Linked DNA regions of Homo sapiens. Changing the gene in region 2 together with the main gene of any one other region gives a genetic interaction. Each region holds a gene or a part of one and is shown on either strand. Other genes may lie near its edges.

Evidence for each region. Genes that interact genetically often act in the same process or in processes that back each other up.
Region 1: changes in CTNNBL1 (region 2) and CAPZB together harm fitness less than expected from each alone (positive genetic interaction), as found in Homo sapiens cells (one large-scale study listed by BioGRID).

What each region holds. Positions count from the first base shown.
Region 1 is NC_000001.11:19,479,040-19,482,689, reverse strand, and holds part of CAPZB (F-actin-capping protein subunit beta), read left to right. Parts: intron 1-3,650. UniProt on the Homo sapiens protein: F-actin-capping proteins bind in a Ca(2+)-independent manner to the fast growing ends of actin filaments (barbed end) thereby blocking the exchange of subunits at these ends.
Region 2 is NC_000020.11:37,868,436-37,872,085, forward strand, and holds part of CTNNBL1 (beta-catenin-like protein 1), read left to right. Parts: intron 1-3,489; coding exon 3,490-3,578; 3' UTR 3,579-3,650. UniProt on the Homo sapiens protein: Component of the PRP19-CDC5L complex that forms an integral part of the spliceosome and is required for activating pre-mRNA splicing.

The sequences.
Region 1 (3,650 bases), on a different chromosome or scaffold from region 2:
TGACTTTGGAATGAATTCCATGATTTTTGTTGGCATGAGTTTCTCCTTCCCAGTTAAAATGCATAGGCAAATGGAATTTATTTGCATTCCCTTAGCAGGTAATAATCTTACCACTGTCTGAGTGCTGTACAATTTCAGAGCACCGTTCCTTACACAGCTTCAGTTTCTGACTTGGGAATTATTCTTAGTTATGATGATGGTGAGGCTTTAGCAGGAACGGGGACTAGGGAGGCCCCCTCAGGAATTGCTGCTCCAGCTCACAGATGGTTTTGCCTGGCAGGAGCTGATGGGAACTTGGTATTGTTACAAGGTGAAACAACATAGTTGACATTAATGTCTCTTGATGTGGATAAGACACATTGTTCAACTCACATCCCTCTTGTCTGTCTATACAGCCCTGTTCATTTAAGCCCACCTGGCCTCTTTTTGGTGGCATGCTTATAAAAAGTAGGCAGTGATCAGTGGCTTGAGATTAAGGAAATGATAAGCCGTGTCTTTGAAAGCAGATGCTCCTATTTATAACTCAGACATCCTATACTTTTACATTCCATGAGGTGGGGAACAGGACATGACTGACCACAGGGAAATGGTGGCAGGGCAGGTGCCTCGCCCGTTAGAAGCCTGCCCTCCCTCCAGGCTGGGAAATGCTTATTGTTAGGCAAATACTGAGGCATGTTGTGGGGTACCTGCAGCTACAGGATAATGTTAATTCAGCTTTTTGTGTATTAAGTGCCTACTCTGTGGTGCTTATGTGCTGAGGATGCAAGACAAGGATCTCTGCCCTCATGGCTCACATTGTTGAGGGGTGGGGATGTCATCGTTACCTAAAGCTTAAGGGGGAAAGAGCCTTGTTCAGTGTACCTGCAGGCACATCTGCATGAGCTATGGCAGGAAACTGAAGAGAAAGCTGGGGGCTTGTGCCAGGCTCCACTCCCAGGCCTTTTGGGGTGTGTCTTCTCTTGTGTCTGCCATTGGGTGGAATTGGATTGCACGTGCACGCAGTCCGCTCCTCTGCACAGCCAAGGCTTTCTGGGGCCCCGAAATGAAACCTTACAGTACCTTGGAAGTCCAGCCTGGGTAGCTTTGTCCAGCCTGTCCAACCCGGGTACCCGAGGATCTGCTGTGACCCAGAAACATGACTTAGGTTATAGCCCAGCCCCCATTTTACTCACAAGGAACCTGAAGCTTGAGAGCTTGAGTGACCGGTGTGAACAGCAGGCCTGGGATTCGGATCCCTGTCAGCCCAAGTCATGTGCTGGACCCCACTCACTGTGTTTTCCAGAACACAGTGAGCAGAGGGCCCCGTAAATACAGGATCTTGTCCCATTTCCCCTTGCAGCAGATCCACCAGTGAGGGTGCGGTGTGGAATTCCAGGGGATGCAACTGCAAGATCACCCATATTGGGACCAGCTAGAGCCATATGCTATTTCCAGACCTAGGCTTTCACAGATTCATGTTTCAGTGGAAGGAAAGGGAGGTTTAATGGTTATGGAGCACCAGCCACATGCTATGCACTCTGTTAGAACGGTCCTCACCACAGCCTGACAAGGTAGGTTCAACTTTAGGCTGGAGGCAGCATAGTACAAGAAAATAGAGTTAGGAGCCAGACTGCTTTAGGATAACAGTACCTCTGCATAAGGTCGTAATGAGGGTTAAGTAATATCTGTCAAGTGCATCCAGTAGCATCTGGCACATAGTGATGTAAACATTAACTATTGTTATTATCACCATTTTCCAAAAGTGTGCAAAGGGGTGTATGGTTAGTCCCTGTCTAGCTACTAAGTGGAGGAATTGGGTTTTCTGACTCCAGAGCAAACCGTTTTTCTCCACTCCGTACTGCCTGCCGATGGCTGCTTTGGAGTTTGTCTGGCTCTGGGTTGTGCCTTGAACGCACAACTTACCTAATAGAGCCTGGGGCTCTTTTCTCCATTAAAGACAAGCTCACTGTGAGCTGGGCACCATGTGTTGCCAGAGCCTCATGCTATATGTCAGGCCCGAATTCCTTGTTTGTGCCAGTGGAACCCCCTGTGACTGGAGGGTTCCTGCCCTCTTCCAGGCTTGGAAGAAGAGAGACAGGGCTGGGGACAGAGCATATGAGCTCTGTGAGAGCAGGGACCTTGTCTGTTTGGTTCCCTCTGAGTACCCCACACCTTGCACTGGCCGCCTGGCACTTAGCGCCAGCTACATAAACACTGAGTGAGAGCTGAGAGGCGGCTGCCTGCTCCACAGAACATGGTCTCTGCAGTTGGGCACATCTGGATTTGAGTCCTGTCTGCCACTCAGCATGTGACTGTCAGTGAGGCGGCTAATTCCCTTGGTCTCAGTTTTCCTGTTCCGTCGCATGAGGATAACATTTTATAGAGATGGGGAGTAGGGGTGAAATTTGTAATGTACTTACTCCAGTGCTTGGCACACAGTAGCTGTGGTTGTTGCATGTCTTATTCTGCATACCACAGAATAAGGGACACAAATAGAAGCCATCATCCCTGTCCTCTAATCTGGGAGGGGGAGGCAAGATGCGTCCAAAAAGCCAAGTGCAGCAGGAATGAAGTAGTACTAGAAAAGACTTAGCCAGGGACCCATGGGTGCTGTGGTCTGCCCATCCCTGCAGGCCTGGCTTGCATTTCCCCCTCCTCCACGCAGCCCTGCAGACCACTCCAGCCTGCAGTCGGCTTGGGGGCTGGGCATGAAGCCTGGGAAGAGTGTGCTCAGGCAGAGAGGACAGGGTGGGGTATGGTCAAGGGGACTGGCACAAAAGCAGAGGTCAGGGGGTGTGGTCACACAAGCAGTAGATGCGAGCCCATGGGGTGCCTCAGTCTCAGGAGTGAGTTGTGGAGTGCCTGAGTTGCTAAGCTAAGGAGTTTGCATTAGATCTGGGACAGTGTGGAGCCAGTGAAATTTTTGACAGGGCAGGTAGAAATTCGAGGAGGCTGGCAGAGCGGTGGTATTTTAGGAAGAGCCCTCTGGCTGTGCATGCAGGAGGCCTGGGAGGTGAAAGAGATGGGAGAGAGGCCTCCACAAGCATCAGCTTGTGAGCTTATGAGGGTCCTGGCCACTGTGCAGCTGTGGGTGTGGAAAGGAAGGGATGGTGGAAGGAGATAAAGGCAGAGTGACACGGAATGATTTACCACCTCTGGAGCTGAGGGGGTCTGCCCCAGAGCTGTCCCATGTAGGTGTTCTGATTGGACAGTTTATCATTGACACACAGCTATTTCAGGTCAGTCTAAATCCTAGATAGTGGTGTCTGCAAAGCCTTGAGAGCCTGTTAACAACTGAATGGGGATTTCAGTCTGGGTAGCCCAGTGATCCATCCAGCCAGTGACTCTGTGACTGCAGGTGGCACCAAGTTCAGCCTGATGCACACAGCATTAGGTTCTGGTGCCTAAGACACCAGTCTGCTGAGGGAGATGGTGGGGTGGCGGGCTCTGCATGGCAGCTGTAGGAATAACAGAAGCTAGTTTTTTTTTGTTTGTTTGTTTGAGACAGAGTCTCGCTCTGCCACCTAGGCTGGAGTACAGTGGCACGATCTCGACTCCCTGCAACCTCCGTCTCCTAGACTCAGGGAATTCTCTTGCCTCAGCCTCCCAAGTAGCTGGGACTACAGGTGCGTACCACCATGCCTAGCTAATTTTTTGTATTTTTAGTAGAG
Region 2 (3,650 bases):
TGATGCAAAGGTTACATGTGAGACAACCTAGAAAATGCAGGCACATAGCAGTGCACAGCACATGTTAGTTCCACTCCGCTCTGTATGGGACAGGCCCTCTTCCAGGGGACACTAAGCCATTCACTGCCTGTGGGCCAGTCGGATATCCCCTTTCCAGAGAATGGGTGATGTGACTGTTTGCTTCTTAGCACAGTTGGAGTGACACAGGAGACTTGCGCATAGGATGGGTGCTCTGTGTACCGTCGGCATATGTAAGCGAGGCCTCGGCACAGGTGATTCGGCAAAGGGATTGATGCAGGTGTGGGTTCCCTCTGCTTCGTACATCCCTAGAAAGAACTCAGGGAAGCCGGCTTTACTGTTGGAAAATCACTGCCCCACAGCATCGGACTGTTTCTCCACTTCCCTCTCTCCTGGGTCTGAGAAGACATTAGGAGAGCAAAGTGTTAGCTCAATCCATTAAGACTCCTGCTTCCAGACCATGCCTCCGGGGATATTAGATGCCATAATGGTCATTTCTCTCTCTCCTGGGGCAGCAACTATATCATTCACATGTGAGTAAGAGATACCACTTACACACAGCCCCAGAGCCTTCTGCCAAAGCTCAGTTCCTGTCTCCATCACCCTGGCCCTCTCTCTAAGGGGCCTTAATAGGAGGCATCACAACCACTTGCTGTTGGAGGTGATGGATGGGCCTAACAGAAGAGGATTTCTGGGGGTAGACACACAGCTGGCACATGCCTGAATCCCACATCCCATTTTCTGGCACACGACCAAAGTAATAAAGAGGAACGGGGCAAAATAAAGAGGTAGCAGGAGCAAAATTACTTCCCCAGCATTGGCAGGGGTGGGGCTGACAGGGGAGGGGTGAGAGGTCACATGCTTTGTCTCCCCAGTCTTTGTCTGGTTTGGATCAGCAGGTGTTTTATTATGCAAAAGCCTCTTACTAGAGAGTTCTCTCCATTTTCTTTCTCAAGCCAGGCCCCAGTAAGGGACCAGGGGGCAGAAGTGCAGGCAGCCATCCTAGTCACCCACTGCAGGAGATCCTTCAGCACGACACTCTGCTGGGGGGCCCTCGGCCAGGCTTAGCTGGGAGGAAGGCGAAAGCCCCTGCCTTCATGCAGCTCTCTGTCTAGGGAGAGAGGGGCTGGGTGGAGGATGGTCTAGCAGTCAGGCCCACATGTGCTGGAGGCAGTGGCCTGGGGCCGGGTGTGGGAGTGAGAGGTGACCAGGCAGGCTTTCACAGAGAAGACATCTCAGGAGGGGACCCGGAGGAGGTGTGGGACTTCCCCAGTGCCATTACTGGCCTGAGCAAAGGAGGCTGAGGGAGGGAACTAATGTTCCCTGGACGTTTGTTATTTGAACATTTTCAGAGGGGACCACCCAAGGGCACAGTTGTGAGTCAGAGCTAGGATTTGATTGCCTTTTCCTCTCTGGCTGTGGGCAGGGGACAGTCAGAGGGCAGTGAAGGGTTGGACCACCCCATCCTCCCCCTTCCCCTCCCACCAGATCCCCTACACTTGCTCTAGGAGCCACCGCAGGAAGTCCAGAGTCACCAAATCATCCCTCGCCATCTCCTAAAAAAAAAAAAAAACAGGGTGACCATGTTATTTTGGGGGACGAGGACACTAAAAAAAAAGAAATGGCGTCTTAAGGATCACTGTGCTGGGACAACAGGGGAGACAAGAACACAAGCCTGCCCACCATGACACTCTCTGATGGCATCCTCTGCTGATCTGTTGCCAGAACTGTGCCCAGAGCCTCACCCTCCTCAGGAATATTTCCTTTCTCTTCCTGGTCTCACTGAAACCTGGTGCTCCTACACCCCTCCTGCCACTGGAGACATAGGAGGGGTCTTCCATGCTCCAGTACTTCTAGACTATTCTCTCTCCCTCCCTTCCCCGAATACACCCAGCTGTCGAAGTTTGTGTCGGGGGACTGCACCCCCCGACAGCCCCTCCCTGTTGTTGGCACCAGCACCTGTGCCCCCAGTCCTTGCGGGGATTCTGGGCTCACTGTCAGCCTCCCCAATGCTCTTGTCATATTTCTTGGTGATTGCAACATCCATATCTCTTTCTCACACCCCATTTCCGGTCTATCTGTAAATCCTATTGGAGCCACCCTCAGAAAACATCAAGAAGCTGAAGACGTCGCCTCACCTCCACCGCTACCTGCCCAATCCAGGCCACTGTCACGTCGCATCTCCTTTCCCTGCCTTTGCTTCCCCCATGGTGTCCCCCACACAGCATTGAGAGGGATCTGGCAAAAGTCAAATCACGTCATTCCTTTCTGCTCAGGACCCACCGCACAGAAAGGCCACAGCCCTTACCGTGGTGCACAGACCCACACCATCTGGGTATGGCCCCTCCCGTGGCTCCAGGCTGTGGCCACGCTGACCTCTTCGCTGACCCTCAGATAAACCAAAGAAGTGCCTCCCCTTAGATCCTCTGCCCTGGCTGCCCTGCCACTCGCTCCTAGACCTTTCCACACTCATCTCCTTCTGATCTTTAAGCAGATACTCCCTGCTGACAGCCACCTGTGTATTTTGTTCACTTTTTGGTTTGTGACCCTCACTAGAAAGTAGGCTCCACACAAGCAGAAATTTGCATCTGTTTCTATCACTGCTTTATTCCCATTCCCAAAAAAAGGTTCTCAAACTGGAGCATACATCAGCATCACCTGGAGACTCAATAAATCCCAGATCACTGGGCCCCACCCGTTTCCTGTTAAGTGGGTCTAGGGTGGTCCCAAGAATTTGTGTTTCTAGTAAGTTTCCATGCAGTGCTGCTGCTGCTGCTGCTGCTCGGGTCCACACTCAGAACCACTCACCCAGAGCAGTGCCTGCCCAGCTGGTGTCTGTCTTAGTCTGTTCGTGCTGCTGTAACAAAATCCCTGAGACTGGGTAATTTATGAAGAACAGAAATGTACTTCCTCACAATTCTGGAGGCGGGGGGTCCAAGAGCACTGCCCCAACCTTTGGTGTCTGCTGAGGGCCGTCCTATTGCATCCTCACATTGCAGAAGGGGGAAGGGCAAAGGGTCTTGAGAGTTCCCTGCAGTCCTTTTGCAAGGGTCTAATCCCCCTAGATTAGACCTAATCTAGACCTAATCTAATCTTATAATTAGATGGTAAGAACCTAATCACCCCATAAAGGCCTTCGATGCGTTGAGGATGAGGTTTCAGCATGAGTTTTGGAGGGGACACAAACATTCAGACCTTAGTAGCATCCACGCCATGTGTGTTGAGTGAATAAATACATGAGGGCGGAAGTGAAGGGTGTGGCTAGGAGGGGAATCCAAGCATGGAAAGGTAAGTTGGGACCTTTCCACTGAGGCCTCAAAGGCAAGACCCCAAGGAATTTGGCTACAGTGGGGGCATTAGGGCGACTTGCACCTCTGTGGGAGCTGGGGTTCTGGGAAAGGTATGAAGCGACGCAGCCACGGTGGATGCCATGCCTGGGATCCACTCCTGACTCTATCTTTGTCCCCCTAGAGTATGCAGAGAACATCGGGGACGGCCGGAGCCCGGAGTTCCGGGAGAACGAGCAAAAGCGCATCCTGGGCTTGCTGGAGAACTTCTAGAGGCACCTTGGCCCTGCGCATCATGGACTCTCTCAGCTTCCCTCCCAGGATCAGTTTCTACACAACTCTGTG